Homo sapiens: one gene and its partners. The protein of the gene in region 1 purifies or fractionates together with the protein of each later gene. This does not show direct contact. Each region holds a gene or a part of one and is shown on either strand. Other genes may lie near its edges.

What was found.
Region 2: the proteins of RC3H1 (region 1) and DHX30 purify together in Homo sapiens (affinity purification with mass spectrometry, with the first as the bait; 2 studies listed by BioGRID). This does not show direct contact.
Region 3: the proteins of RC3H1 (region 1) and KRT2 purify together in Homo sapiens (affinity purification with mass spectrometry, with the first as the bait; 2 studies listed by BioGRID). This does not show direct contact.
Region 4: the proteins of RC3H1 (region 1) and YBX3 purify together in Homo sapiens (affinity purification with mass spectrometry, with the first as the bait; 3 studies listed by BioGRID). This does not show direct contact.

The regions. Positions count from the first base shown.
Region 1 is NC_000001.11:173,942,358-173,945,857, forward strand, and holds part of RC3H1 (roquin-1), read right to left. Parts: intron 1,259-3,500; coding exon 1,085-1,258; intron 1-1,084. UniProt on the Homo sapiens protein: Post-transcriptional repressor of mRNAs containing a conserved stem loop motif, called constitutive decay element (CDE), which is often located in the 3'-UTR, as in HMGXB3, ICOS, IER3, NFKBID, NFKBIZ, PPP1R10, TNF, TNFRSF4 and in many more mRNAs.
Region 2 is NC_000003.12:47,834,138-47,837,637, reverse strand, and holds part of DHX30 (ATP-dependent RNA helicase DHX30), read right to left. Parts: intron 1-3,500.
Region 3 is NC_000012.12:52,649,412-52,653,410, forward strand, and holds the start of KRT2 (keratin, type II cytoskeletal 2 epidermal), read right to left. Parts: upstream 2,801-3,999; 5' UTR 2,732-2,800; coding exon 2,147-2,731; intron 1,143-2,146; coding exon 928-1,142; intron 564-927; coding exon 503-563; intron 1-502.
Region 4 is NC_000012.12:10,713,324-10,716,823, forward strand, and holds part of YBX3 (Y-box-binding protein 3), read right to left. Parts: intron 2,461-3,500; coding exon 2,371-2,460; intron 11-2,370; coding exon 1-10. UniProt on the Homo sapiens protein: Binds to the GM-CSF promoter. Seems to act as a repressor. Also binds to full-length mRNA and to short RNA sequences containing the consensus site 5'-UCCAUCA-3'. May have a role in translation repression.

The DNA of each region.
Region 1 (3,500 bases):
GGGAGGCGGAGGTTGCAGTGAGCTGAGGTTGGGCCACTGCCCTCCACCCTGGGTGACAGAGACTCAGTCTCAAAAAAAAAAAAAAAAAAAAAAGAAAAGAAAACCAAAGTACAATAAATATCTTTAACATACTTACTGAAAGCAAAAAAAACCTGCATGCTCAATTTATTTGCTTAGAAAGATTATGAAAACTGGCTGGGCGTGGTGGCTCACACCTGTAATCCCAGCACTTTGGGAGGCTGAGGCGGGCGGATCACGAGGTCAGGAGATCGAGACCATCCTGGCTAACACGGTGAAACCCCGTCTCTACTAAAAATACAAAAAATTAGCCAGGCGAGGTGGCAGGCGCCTAGTCCCAGCTACTTGGGAGGCTGAGGTAGGAGAATGGCGTGAACCCGGGAGGCAGAGCTTGCAATGAGCCGAGATCGCACCACTGCACTCCAGCCTGGGCGACAGAGACTCCGCCTCAAAAAAAAAAAGAAAGATTATGAAAACTAAGCAACAAAAAAAATCATATCATGCAACCTGAGGAAGCCCCTAAGATTCAAAATTTACTAAAATGAATGTCTGTGCACTATGAAGCAAATCCTAAGCATATTAATGGATATAGTTTTTCCTAAGCATACATAATGGATACAGGAAACAATGTGCAGATTGCATATCACTCATAGCAAAAATAGGTCATCATTATAAAGGCTATGAAACTAGAATGTTATTTGGTGAATACATCTTTATATAACATGTTGTCATTGCAAAATAGTAAACACCATCCTATTTGCTTCCCTAATCAGTATGCTAAACAGAAATTTAAGACTTCCATTAAGTTCTTAAATTACAGAAGCATTAAAACCTTGTTTTCCCTAAAAGTTAACGAAGAATTATAAGACAAAGAACACACCCAAACCAAGAGAATGAGGAAGGGAATGATAAAATCGGAAGGTAGCCCACCTGCATGAGAATTATTTTAAATATTAACCACTCATCAGAGTGCCTTGAAGTGATGATTCTGTGCCTCTAGATAATTCTAGAGCCACATGAAAGATTTCATTTCACCTTCCCTCTCTTTCCCCACCATAACACTCACCATACTCAGTTCCCGTGTTCTCTTCCCGATTTCCCTTTCCACCTGGTGCAGTTCCAAGCTCAACTGCTCACTTGAGATCATCCCAGGCCATTTTGGAGGTGGCGGTGGTGGGGGCTGTGACTGGCCTGCCAGGGTGTTTGCCTCCCTCTGCAACACCAGCCTGTTACTAACAGCCTAGTGCATAAAGCCAAGCACACAGAAAACTCAACACACTTCACACCATGCACAGAATAACCAGGCTCAATTCCAGACCACAGCCTTGAGTAGCTTATCACCCAGCCATTTGCAACAAAATAATGCAACTGTAAGGTGCTGTTCTCTTTGAGTACCATTCAAACAAAAAAATAACAAAATAGGGACATTTAAATTTAGTAAACAGTAATTTCATCTTATGTATAAATTGCTCCTTGTATTTTCTGATTTGAAAGAGAAGTTGGCTACGCATGGTGGCTTGTGCCTTTAATTCTAGCACTTTGGGAAGCTGAGGTGGGAGGATCACTTGAGGCCAGGAATTTGAGATCCACCTGGGCAATATATCAAGACCTCGCCTCTACAAAAAATAAAAAATAAAAAAACCAAAAAATTAGCCTGGGATGGTGGTGTGGGCCCGTAGTCCTAGCTACTAGGGAGGATCACTTGAGCCCAGGAGTTTAAGATTACAGCGAGCTGCTATGATCATGCCACTGCACTCCATGCACTCCAGCCTGGGCAACAGAGTGAGACTTTGTCTCTCAAAAAAAAAAAAAAAAAAGGAAATGGAAGAAAAACAAGTCAACTACAGATGTGCATCTTTCCCCCTCTGTTTTTAATGGTAATTTTCTCTGAAGTAAATCCTATAACTTATTTCAATGAAACCTCAGTAATGGCAAGGACTTTTAACTGTACTGAGTTAAATATGTGGCAAGTTTCTAAATAATACTGATAGTCTTTTTGGACAGAAAATGCTCCTGGAAACTTTAAAACAAAAAATCATGCATGTGGTGGGGGGAAAGCGGAGGGATAGCATTAGGAGATATACCTAATGTAAATGACGAGTTAATGGGTGCAGCACACCAACATGGCACATGTATACCACATGTAACAAACCTGCACGTTGTGCACATGTACCCTAGAACTTAAAGTATATAAAACAAACAAACAAACAAACAAAAAACCATGCATTTGAAGATATGGAGTAATGCCTTATTGGGTTGAAGGTCTGAATCTTTAAAAAGTTAATGAACGAAAGATTGCCATAAGCAAACATGGCATTCTGTTTCTATGACAGGAATCGGCAAGACGTTCTGAATCAATGTAAATAAGCAATGGCGAAAGCAGACAAAATCTAAGTATTACATAGATTTTTAAAATTCCTAAATCTAATTGCGTACATAGGGGCACAAGCCAGCTATATGTTCCAAAAACAATCTCCTACTGGTCTTCCTAAAAAGAAAGTCTACTAAGAAAGTCTGTCTTATAACTTTTTTTCCCCCCTAAAGTGATGGCTTACTTATTATTAAAGATTATGGTAGAAAGACAGACTAATGTTCTAACAGTACCATTTTTTCCTCCAGAAAGGACAATATATTTATCATTAGAATGTCTTCAGTTTTCCATATTCAAAGAATATGTTCCAACGTAAAGGATGATGTATAAACAAAACCTAGTCTTCCTTATGTGGCACTTAAAAGATTTTAAAAATTCCTTTTTTTTTTTTTTTTGAGACAGAGTCTCACTCTGTCACTCAGGCTGGAGTGCAGTGGCACCATCAGGGCTCACTGCAGCCTCAACCTCCCTGGGCTCAGGTGATCCTCCTGCCTTCAGCCTCCTGAGTAGCTGAGACTACAGGCGTGCACTACCATGCCTGGCCAATTTTTGCACTTTTTGTAGTGAAGGGATTTTGCCATGTTGCCCAGGCTGGTCTCAAACTCCTGAGCTCAAGCAATCCATCTGCTCTGGCCTCCCAAAGTGCTGGGATTACAAGCATGAACCACCACGTCCAGCCAGATTTTAAAAATTCTTTAGTTTTGTTTTTCTAAGTGTCAGGCAGCATGATGGAAAGAACACTGAATCTGGAGTATGAAGACTTGGGTTCGTGTTTCAACTTCTGAGAAACTCATATACTTCAATCAAAAAAGGAGGACAATACCACCTGCCTAAAATATCAGGGATATTCTAAGGGTCAAATAAGATAAGTGGTAGTGATTTTTAAATGGTACAGAACTACGTAAATGAAAAGTGTTATTATTCTTATTACACCGGAACTATGTTTTACTTTTTAAGTCAAAGTTCTGTTTTTTTTTTTGAGACGGAGTCTCACACTGTAGCCTGGGCTGGAGTGCAATGGCGCAATCTTGGCTCACTGCAACCTCTGCTTCCTGGGTTCACACGATTCTCCTGCCTCAGCCTCCTGATTAGCTGGGATTACAGGTGCACA
Region 2 (3,500 bases), on another chromosome or scaffold:
AGGCGTACGCCACCAGGCCCGGCTAATTTTTGTATTTTTAGTAGAGATGGGGTTTCACCATGTCGGCCAGGCTGCTCTCGAGCTCCTGACCTTGTGATCCACCCGCCTCAGCCTCCCAAAGTGCTAGGATTACAGGCCCTCATGCCTGGCCCTCTAATACCGTTGAAGAAACCTCCTCCACAGCTGCCGCTGGTATTCTCTTCCATCCAGTGTCCCTGTCTCTGGTCTTGCCAAAAACTACTGCTGTCAGTGATTTTCCCTAAAAGCAAACTTGGCTGTGTCATTCTATCAATTACCACTAGTCAGAAGCCCTGGCAGCCACAGGATCAAATCATTCTGCCCCTGTGACAGTGAAGGCCCTGGAGTTCTAGCTCCTCCCTGCCCGTCTACCGCATGGCCCAGCAGGCAGACCCACATTCATTCTCATTCCCCATAGCCACGCATATTCACCCGGGCTCTAAGCCACATTGGCCTGAGTCTGGAGTGCCTTGCTCCAGCCCTCGGCCCTGGCAAGGACCATTCTTCAAGAATAAGCCTCTTCTATTTAGGAGGCTGGGGTGCATTTATGTCCTCCCGTGGACACCTTCTTCTTGGCTGTGGCTGCTGACTCAGTCCCCTTTGTGCTGCCAGCACGTCTCACCAAGCCTATGGGCAATGCAGAAAAAGACATCTGATTTGGGGGGAAAGGGAAACGCTGAAGAACTGGGAGTACAGCTATTAGAGAATAAAAGGCTGAGTTCTAGAATAAAAAACAACTCCTATAACCACAACAAGATCTCATCTCACACCCATTAGGATCGCTATGATCAAAAAAACAAAAACAACTAGGCTGGGCACGGTGGCTCACACCTGTAATCCCAGCACTTTGGGAGGCAGGCAGATCGCGAGGTCAGGAGTTCAAGACCAGTCTGGCCAATATGGTGAAACCCTGTCTCTACTAAAAATACAAAACTTAGCTGGGCGTGGTGGTGCGCACCTGTAGTCCCAGCTACTCGGGAGGCTGAGGCAGGAGAATCGCTTAAACCCAGGACGTGAACGTTGCAGTGAGCCGAGATTGCGCCACTGCACTCTAGCCTGGGCAACAGAGCAAGACACCATCTCAAAACAAAACAAAACAAAACAAAACTATACACATAGATGGGGAAGAGAAAAAGAGATGGAGAAAAATGTGATAATGACCTGCTTCAGACAGGCTGGGATGGCCGGGCACAGTAGCTCATGTCTGTAATCCCAACACTTTGGGAGGCGGAGGCAGAGGCAGGCGGATCACCTAAGGTCAGGAGACTTTGAGACCAGCCTGGCCAACATGGTGGAACCTCATCTCTACTAGAAATACAAAAATTGGCCAGGCGTGGTGGCAGGCACCTGTAATCCCAGCTATGAGGGAGGCTGAGGCAGGAGAATCACTTAAATCCAGGAGGCAGACAGAGGTTACAGTGAGCCAAGATCACGCCATTGCACCATTGCACTCTAGCCTGGGCGAAAGAGAAAGACTCCATCTCAAAAAACAAAAGTCTGAGTTTAAAGTGCCTTCAAACATCCAGCCAGCCAGTCAGCCAGGCAGAGAAGGATTTCTCAGCTTCAGCATAATTGCTATTTTGAGCAGGGTAATTCTTTGCTATAGGGGGCTGTCCTGTGTACTGTAAGCTGGGAAGAAGCATTCCTGGCCTTGATCTTACAGCTGCCAGTAGCACTCCTCCACCTGTGTCCAACGAAAATCCCTACAGACATTGCCAAATGGCCCCTGGCCACTCTCAGCACTTTTTTTCAACATAGTACTAAAAGTACTAGAAAGTGCAGGCAGACAAGAAAAAAAGGCATCCAAACTGGAAAGAAAGAAGTAAAATTATCCCTGCTTACAAATGACATATCTTATATATAGAAAACCCAAAAGAGAGCCAGGCACAGTGGCTCATGCCTATAATCCCAGAACTTTGGGAGGCTGAGGCGGGTGGACCACCTGAGGTCAGGAGTTTGAGACCAGCCTAGCCAACATGGTGAAACCCCATCTCTACTAAAAGTACAAAAAAATTGGCCGGGCGCAGTGGCTTACACCTGTAATCCCAGAACTTTGGGAGGCTGAGGCGGGTGGACCACCTGAGGTCAGGAGTTCGAGACCAGCCTAGCCAACATGGTGAAACCCCATCTGTACTAAAAGTACAAAAAAATTGGCCGGGCACAGTGGCTCACACCTGTAATCCCAGCACTATGGGAAGCCGAGGCAGGCAGATCACCTGAGGTCAGGAGTTCGAGACCAGCCTGACCAACATGGAGAAACCCCATCTCTAGTAAAAATACAAAATTCCAGGCGTGGTGGCACATGCCTGTAATCCCAGCTACTCGGGAGGCTGAGACAGAACTGCTTGAACCCAGGAGACGGAGGTTGCAGTGAGTTGAGATTGCGCCACTGCACTCCAGCCTGGGCAATAAGAGCGAACCTCCATGTCAAAAAAAAAAAAAAAAAAAATTAGCCAGGCATGATGGCACATGCCTGTAATCCCAGGCACTCGGGAGGCTGAGGCAGGAGAATTGCTTGAACCCAGGAGGCAGAGGCTGCAGTAAGCCGAGATCGCGCTGCTGCACTCTAGCCTGGGCAACAGAGCAAGACTCCATCTCAAAAAATAAAAAATAAAATAAAAAATAAAGAAGTTCCTCAAAAAATTAAAAATAAAACTACCATATGGTCCAGCAATATCTGCTCTGGGTATATACCCAAAGGGAATGAAATCATCAGCTCATAGGGATGTCTGCACTCCCATGTTAACTGCAGCATTATTCACAACAGTCAAGATACGGAAACAACCTAAGCATCTGTCAAAGGATGAATGGTACATATACACAACAGGATATTATTCAGCCTTTAAAGAAGAGGAGATCTGGCCAGGTGCAGTGGCTCATGCCTGTAATCCCAGCACTTTGGGAGGCTGAGACAGGTGGATTGCTTGAGCTCAGGAGTTCAAGACCAGTCTGGGCAACACTGGAAGACCCCATCTCTACAAAATTAGCCAGGTGTGGTGGCGCACACCTGCAGTCTCAGTTACTCCAGAGGTTGAGGTGGGAGGATCTCTTGAGCCCTGGAGGTGGAGTCTGCAGTGAGCCATGATCGCACCACTGCATTCCAGCCTAGGCCACAGAGCAAGACCCTGTCTCAAAATAAATAAATAAAAGTAAAAACATGGATAAACCTGGAAGACATTATGCTAAGTAAACCAGACACAAAGAAAATACCACATGGGCCAGGAGTAGTGGCTCACACCTGTAATCCCAGCACTTCAAGAGGCCAAGGCGGGCAGATCACTTCAGGTCAGGAGTTCAAGACCAGCCTGGCCACCATGGCGAAACCCCATCTCTACAAAAAATACAAAAATTAGCTGGGTGTGGTGGCACATGCCCGTAGTCCCAGCTACTCGGGAGGCTGAGACATGAGAATTGCTTGGACCTAGGAGGCGGAGGTTGCAGTGAGCCAAGATCACGCCACTGCACTCTAGCCTGGGCAACAG
Region 3 (3,999 bases), on another chromosome or scaffold:
TGTGGGTTTCCACAGTCCTCAGCTCTCTCATCCCGTCTGTCCATCTCACCTCTCCGAAATTTCCCCAGAATATACACCAAAGGCCCTGCAGGACCCAGCAGGAGAACCCTTGCTTTTGGCCTACAACCTCAAACCTTTGTCAGCACAACCAACAGCAACTTTAAGCAGGCATTCTAAGGGAAGTCCCATTCCTTCCTCAGCTCTTTAGAAGGAGAATACAAAGAGATTTTTGTGTTTGCATTTATCATGATTCAGTAGAGGCTTTAAGTGGGTTACTACTGGGAAGCACTCTACCAAAAATGCAGAACAGCTTTGAAAACTGTATCCAGAAGCTTGACCTACAGAGACAATTTTGTTTGCAAGAGAATGTGCCATGGGTCTCACTCCTTTCTCTGGCTGCTGCTTTTGCACTCACAGTTGATTTCCAAACTGGCTGCTTAGACACAATGGGGCTGTGAAGCACTCCTATCCCCACCCCCAGCCAAGACATTCTCTCGCTCACCTTTTTAAGCGTCACAAAATCATTCTCAGCAGCTGTGCGCTTATTGATTTCATCCTCATACCTATTGGGACACAGATGTTACAGCAGTTAGATTAGTTCCCCTTCATTTTTTTTCTTTTCCTTTTATACTGGATTCACCCCAAATGCCCCATTCTCTGGGAATATTACACACTTTTTAAATATCTAAATTGAAACTAAGATTTCCAAACTAAAGATATATTTTTATAAACTAACTCTCAAACATACAAAAGACAAAAATGATCTCTAAAGTCTCACTGTCTTCCTCACAAATAATCAACAAAGATACATATGCCTCTCCCCATTACCACCACAAATGCAACTGGGAGATGAATGGCTTTCCAGGGAGTGATCAAATGGCTCAGTGCAATGTTTATCTCCACTCAGCGTTTCACTCTGCCACCTACTTCTTCTTATAATCCTCCACAAGATCCTGCATGTTATTCAGCTCTGAATTCTGTGATGTTCTTTCTGCAGTGAGCCCATCCAGATATCTCTTGAGGCTGTCGATATACCCCTGGAAGATGGGCTCCAGGTTGATGGGGCGGGTGCCAACATTCATTTGTTGTAGCAGCTCCCATTTGGTCTGTAACACCTGGTTCTGCTGCTCCAAGAACCGCACCTGCCATGACCAGAAGGAGAGCACATGAGTTCTAGATCATCCTTCACACCAAGCAAGCCACGCTGGCCAGGGGCAGCTCAGGTGCTGCTTCAGGACCTCGAGAAGTGTCTGAGGCTGGATGCCGAGTCATGACTGGCAGAGCTTCTGAGCTCCCTGCTTTCGCCCCTGGAAAGTCCCACAGACTCCTAATGCTACATCCGGCTCTCTCCACGCAGAGGAGACTCTTTGCTGCTTCACTGCTCACTGGTTTGTTTGCAGCTGCTCCCAATACTCTAGACCATTTCCCTCCCCGCATCCTGGTTGAATTTCCAGCCAAGATCCCATAAATTCTGGGGAAAACCGAAAGCAGCCATCTGCTGGCACTGCTCGCAAGGGTGCTGAGTATGAGAGTCCCAGAGGGCAGGGCTCCTCAGCCTGATTTTTAAGAGCCTTGTAAATCCCTGCCTATTTCAAGGCAGATAAACCAAGACAGGTTCGTCTGCCTTGAAATAGGAGAAAAGCCAGTAACACTCCGAAGTGACACCAATAAAGACTTTATGGATCACAAAACTGAGAACGCTTCTCTTGAAGGCAGGAATTTCCTGCATTCCCAAGCAGATATTTCAGGTTCAGCTTCCCAGAGTTTAGTAATCACTGCTAAGGAAGGAAACACTATCTCAGAAGACGATGGCTTCCAAAACCTGCTGCTCCAGTGGCCTGTCCCAAGGATCAGTTCAATACTTGCCTATATCCATTTTTTATGGTTTTCAGAATTTTCCATAAATATTATTTATATGGACTGTAACAATAAGGTCAAAGGGACAAATGCTTCCTAAGTGCAGGCTGTTATGGGAAATGTAACCCACAAAGCTGGCGTCTTTTCCATCTGGAAACCGCAAATGACCCAGGCTACTGCGGTACACCACTGGCTCCTAAGAAATACAAATCTGTGCCATTTTCTTTTTGGTTGGCTCTGGAAGTGAAGTGGCCTGAGCATCAGTGGGAGCCGTCTTCTCCAGAGTCACCTTGTCAATGAAGGAGGCAAATTTGTTGTTGAGAGTTTTGATCTGCTCACGCTCTTGGGCCTTCACATTCTGGATCTCTGGGTCAACTTTCACGTTGAGAGGCTGCAGGAGGCTCTGGTTGACAGAGACTTCGTGGATGCCACCAGGGTATCCTCCAGGCCCAAAGCCACCAGGACCCCCTAAACCTCCAACACCACCAGGGCCCCCAAAACCTCCAAAGCGGCCTCCACCAAAGCCGCCTCCACCGAAACCACCACCACTGAAGCCGCTGCCACCTCCAAAGCTGCTGCCGCCTCCAAAACCACCTCCTCTGCCACCAAATCCACCAGCGGCGCCAAAGCCACCACCTCCTCCAGCCACACTAATGGAGATGCTCTTGGTCCCTCCAAGGCCAACAAGACTCCGACTGCCAAAGCCGCCTCCACCGAAGCCCCCGCCACCACCACCATGGCGGCTCAAGCAGGAGAAGCTGGAAGTTGATCTCCGGCTTCCACCAGACACCACAGCTGAGCCGCTGCTGAAGCCCCGGAATCCTCCTCCACCTCCTCCTCTTCCTCGAGATTTGCAAGAGATCTGACAACTCATGATGCCTTTGTCCAGGGAGGAAAGTCACAGGCTCTTGAGAAGAGTCAAGGCTGGAGACTCAACTGTGCTGCTGGGAGGCTTTCAGGGTCCCCTTATATACCTGCCAACTAGGTGTTGTGTACATGGGTGTGGATCCACTTATACGTGGGTTTGGTCTGCCTGGGAGCTATTCCTGGTGCGTGATTATCAAGCTAATAGCCATTAAAAATCTACTAATCAGCTCCATCCCAGAACTTGCTTTGATTGCAAACTTCTGTTTATCTGGGCATCTGTCATGCAATTTGATTTTTGTAAAATCATCAAAAGAGGAGATCAGGGTTTGGGTTTCTCAATCTGGAAAAGGACCTTCTGCAGAATGCTGCTCCCTGTTCTGGACCTGCCCAAGGGAAGTCAGCTACCACCCATGCTTGTGCAGGCTCACCACCCCAGTTCAACAATGAAAGGGATGGTGGGTTTAGAGACTGCAAGAGCCCCTCAATGCCAGCCTTGTAGTTCTCTTGTAGTTTCCCTCTTTCCCAGAAAGAGCCCCAACTAGTGCAGGGGAGACTGCAAAGGTCTTAAATGACCTTAAATGCTAATTGGAAATCGACCTCCTCTTACAGAAAGTAATTGGCCTCGGATACTGCAAAAGAGGTGTCGATTTTCAAAATATCTTGGCTCTTTTCTTCCCATGCCACACCAAAAATACACAATAACTAGGCACCGAATAGAGATTTTTTATAACCATGATGGTTTGTATAACCATCAACTGTCCCTTGTCTACATGAACACCCAGAGGTTGAGAGGTATGAGAAAAGTTTCGCTGTTTCTGGACCTGTGTGATGCGGGACACCAAGTGAAAGTTTGCAAACCAAGATCCAAGTGTATATTGATTCAGTCAGTCAGTAATCACGTATTGCCTGGTGATCCTGGGAAGTGATTAGGAAGTCAGGCTCTTCAATGACATCCACAGATGCTTGAGGATAAGAAGACCATCCAGCCTGCACAGAGCACTCACACTTAAACTCAACCACTTCCTCTGTCCATGTGGCCAACTATGTGGGAGAGGTTCTTGGAGTAATAAAACTGAATTTAGTCAGAAATTCTGGGTTTGAGTCCCAGTTTTGCTATTTATTGGCTGTGAGGCCTTGAATGAAACCCTGAGGCTCTGTGGTCCCAGCTATAAAATGGGAAATTCGTATGAAGTGTTTTGAAAACCACCGTGCACAATAAAATGTCAGTATCATTATTGTTTGGGGTGAGACAAAGATAATTCCTTTTCCTTTCCC
Region 4 (3,500 bases), on another chromosome or scaffold:
CTTCTGCACCCTGAGAAGAAAATAAAAAGATGGCCTCAAAATTAAAAAGAATATACACTAACTCAAAAAACAGCCTTGGACTGCTAGAGTATAAGACTGGCAGAACATACTAAGAATTCCCACTGTGATTTTAAAAACAGATCTAGGTTTTAAACAAAGTGAGCAAGGTACTTCACATCCTGATTTAAACATATATGGCTTGTTTGCTCATACAACCTGAGTTTTGCTTTCTTGTCTAGTAATGTCAATCGCAAAAGCAATGTGTAACCTCTTTAAAGAACATAAATTAGCAAATATACAACTGTCAAAGTAGAAGCAATGCTAGACCAGGAAGAATATTCCTCAATGGGAAAGACTTGAGATACTGTTATTTTCCTAGAATGTGTTGAAACCTATGTTAGTCTAGGAGGTACCAAGAGGACAATCCCTATTCATGGGCTCATATGATTCTCTGTCCAGCACAAAGGTACTGAGTGAAACTTCTCCTATTTTGGCAGCAACAAGAAGAAAGGGTCTTTGATGAATAATATTCTCCACACATGTAGTCCTTCTTTAGCCTTTCCTATTATCCTTGAAACAGATTTAGAATTCTTATTCTCATATGGACAAATGGAAAATGTTTCAAAAATGTTAAAAAAATGTAGACCAAGAAGATTTCAGAGAGTGTATTTCACACCCTACATCACTTTGTAAAACCCTGAGTTCTGAAAACATACAGAAGAAAAATCAACCCAAAACAATTTTTTAAAAATTGGATGGGATATCAGAGATCCTCACAGAGTGGCAGGTGCTGGTGAGTGATTTGAAAATCTAAAAGACTTACAAGATACCCTGGGGATCACACCGGTAAAGATAATCACTTAAATTTCTGCATCCAATGAAATAAATTGTTTTTCTTTTAAAACACAATGGTTTGAGAGCCATTAGGAACATGACCTATGGAATGGTATATGTGTATATGGGAGGAGCACATACAGGGAGTTAACCTCTCATCCAGTTAATTTATAATTCAGCTGCCATGATTAGCTGCCATGGCAGTTGTGCTATATGTAGTTTTAGCGTGTTTTTAATCTTACTCAATATTGTTTTACTAGTATCTATAACAGACTAAACACAAAGCATAAAGGGCATTACAGACACGGAATTAAATATATAACAGTATTAAAAACTTCTGTAGCTAGTCTTCAGGAAAATCCCTTAACTTCTTGGATTCAGTTCACCCGGACGAAGCTATCTTAGGGTCTATCAGGGTACCTTCAGCTTCCCAAAATCCAAGCCAAACAGAAAACAAAATGATTAATATTCAATTTCGATCTCCTTTTATTGGGATTAAAATATTCTTTACCATGTATTATTTGTAGGTAGAAGTGCTTACAAGTCAGCCTGAAAACTTTACTTTGATAAAAGAAATCTTTTGCCCCAAAGCAGTTTTTCTTTTCTTTTTTTTTTTTTAAAAAACGGAATCTTGCTCTGTCCCCCAGGCTGGAGTGCAATGTCTCAGTTCACTGCAAACTCCACCTCCCAGGTTCAAACGATTCTCCTGCCTCAGCCTCCTGAGTAGCCGGAATTACAGGAGTGCGACCACACTCAGATATTTTTGTAATTTTAGTAGAGACGGGTTTCACCATGTTGGCCAGGCTGGTCTTGAACTCCTGACCTCAGGAGATCCGCCTGCCTCAGCCTCCCAAAGTACTGGGATTACAGGTGTGGGCCACCACGCCCAGCTGCAAAGCACTTTTAATATATTGTTAATACATAAGATAGTTAAATTTTAATCTGCATTTCGAAATACATACCTTTGGTATAAAAATATAAATTATTTTTAAATTGAGAAATCAGCTTTTCTTTCCATAATCAGAGTTGATCATTTATTAAATAAGAAATTAAAGTATCTTTATTGCAGAATGTTTATAATGACAATGTCAAAAATATTTCTGCTAGCTGGGTGTGGTGGCTCACACCTGTAATCCCAGTACTTTGGGAGGCTGACACAGGTGGATCACCTAAGGTCAGGAGTTTCAAGACCAGCCTGGCCAACATGGTGAAACCCCGTCTCTACTAAAAATACAAAAATTAGCCGGGCGTGGTGGTGGATGCCTGTAATCCCAGCTATTAGGGAGACTGAGGCAGAGGAATCACTTGAACCTGGATGGTGGAAGTTGCAGTGAACCAAGATCGCGCCACTGCACTCCAGCCTGGGCAAGAGGGAGACCCCATCTTAAAAAAAAAAAAAATTCTGTTTAAAAGTCACTTCCTGCTATTGTACAAAAATTCCAAAGTCATGTCAATTCATAAGGGGCTGATAGATAATTTATTGTGCAACAGTACTATGTGCCAGCACTTTGATACCCAACCACAATTTCCTCTCACCTTCTCTCCTTCAACCACATCAAACTCTACAGTTTCTCCATCTCCTACACTGCGCAGATATTTCCGTGGGTTATTCTTCTTGATGGCAGTCTGGAAAGAGAACAGAAAATTTTATTCGATGTATATTTCAATATTGGCCACAGATTTCACTGCTTTCAAGTACACCAGAGTGAACTTGAAGAAACTGTTGACCGATTCTTATTTTTCCACCATTCTCCCACTAAGTTGGATCTCCAACACAACAACAAGAAAGCACTATAAAACTATATTCCACATTACTTCCTTGATTTGTGCTATTCATCTTGACAGGTGGATTAAACAGAACATGTTTTTTCTATAACTGCAGTGTGTGCAGTGACTACACACTACTGTTACAGGCTGATCACCTGATCATATCAGATGTATTAATTACCTCAAACCATTAAGCTTCAGAGATTCTCTGAATCTCCGGAGGAGGAAAGGAGGCAGTGATAAAGAAAAACAAATTAAAATGCCAAGGGGATAAATATTTCTGACGAGTAAACAAAATTATCTCAAGAATCAGAACGTATTAGTAATAATCTGGCCTCCCCCCTCTCCTCCCATTTTGCAGATGAGTTAACACGAGGCTAACAGTTAAAGTGATTTATCTGAAGTCACAACCGTAACAGCCCCAGGGATGATGGGGGAAGTGGAGGAGGGGGAATTCATATCCCTGTACTCTACCTATATGATATTTATTCAACTTTTCTCCCATCACACAATTCATGTCAACAAATCCTACATTCCCTGATAATACATTAAAAGGTTAGTGAAGATGCTATTCTTCATTAAACATCTACACCTAAATATCTGCTTATGAATAGGTGCTGCTCTCTCTTGTTCCATCAATGAAGGCAGAAAATAATTCCTGCCATGCATTTCCATTTCTTTGGCTGGTATCTCTAAACAGTTAAAGGGGCTTGCGTTTCTATGGAACTAGGTCAACCTTATTTTATAAAGCGATTAAGCATGTGTAATCCAGCCCGTCCCCTAACTCTGAGTAGGAGGGAAAAGAAATAGTGAGCCAACAGAGCAGAGACCTCACCCATAGAGGAAAAAAGGCAGTTCAGGACAGGCACGCAGCATGAACATTCAGCCATTCCAAAAAC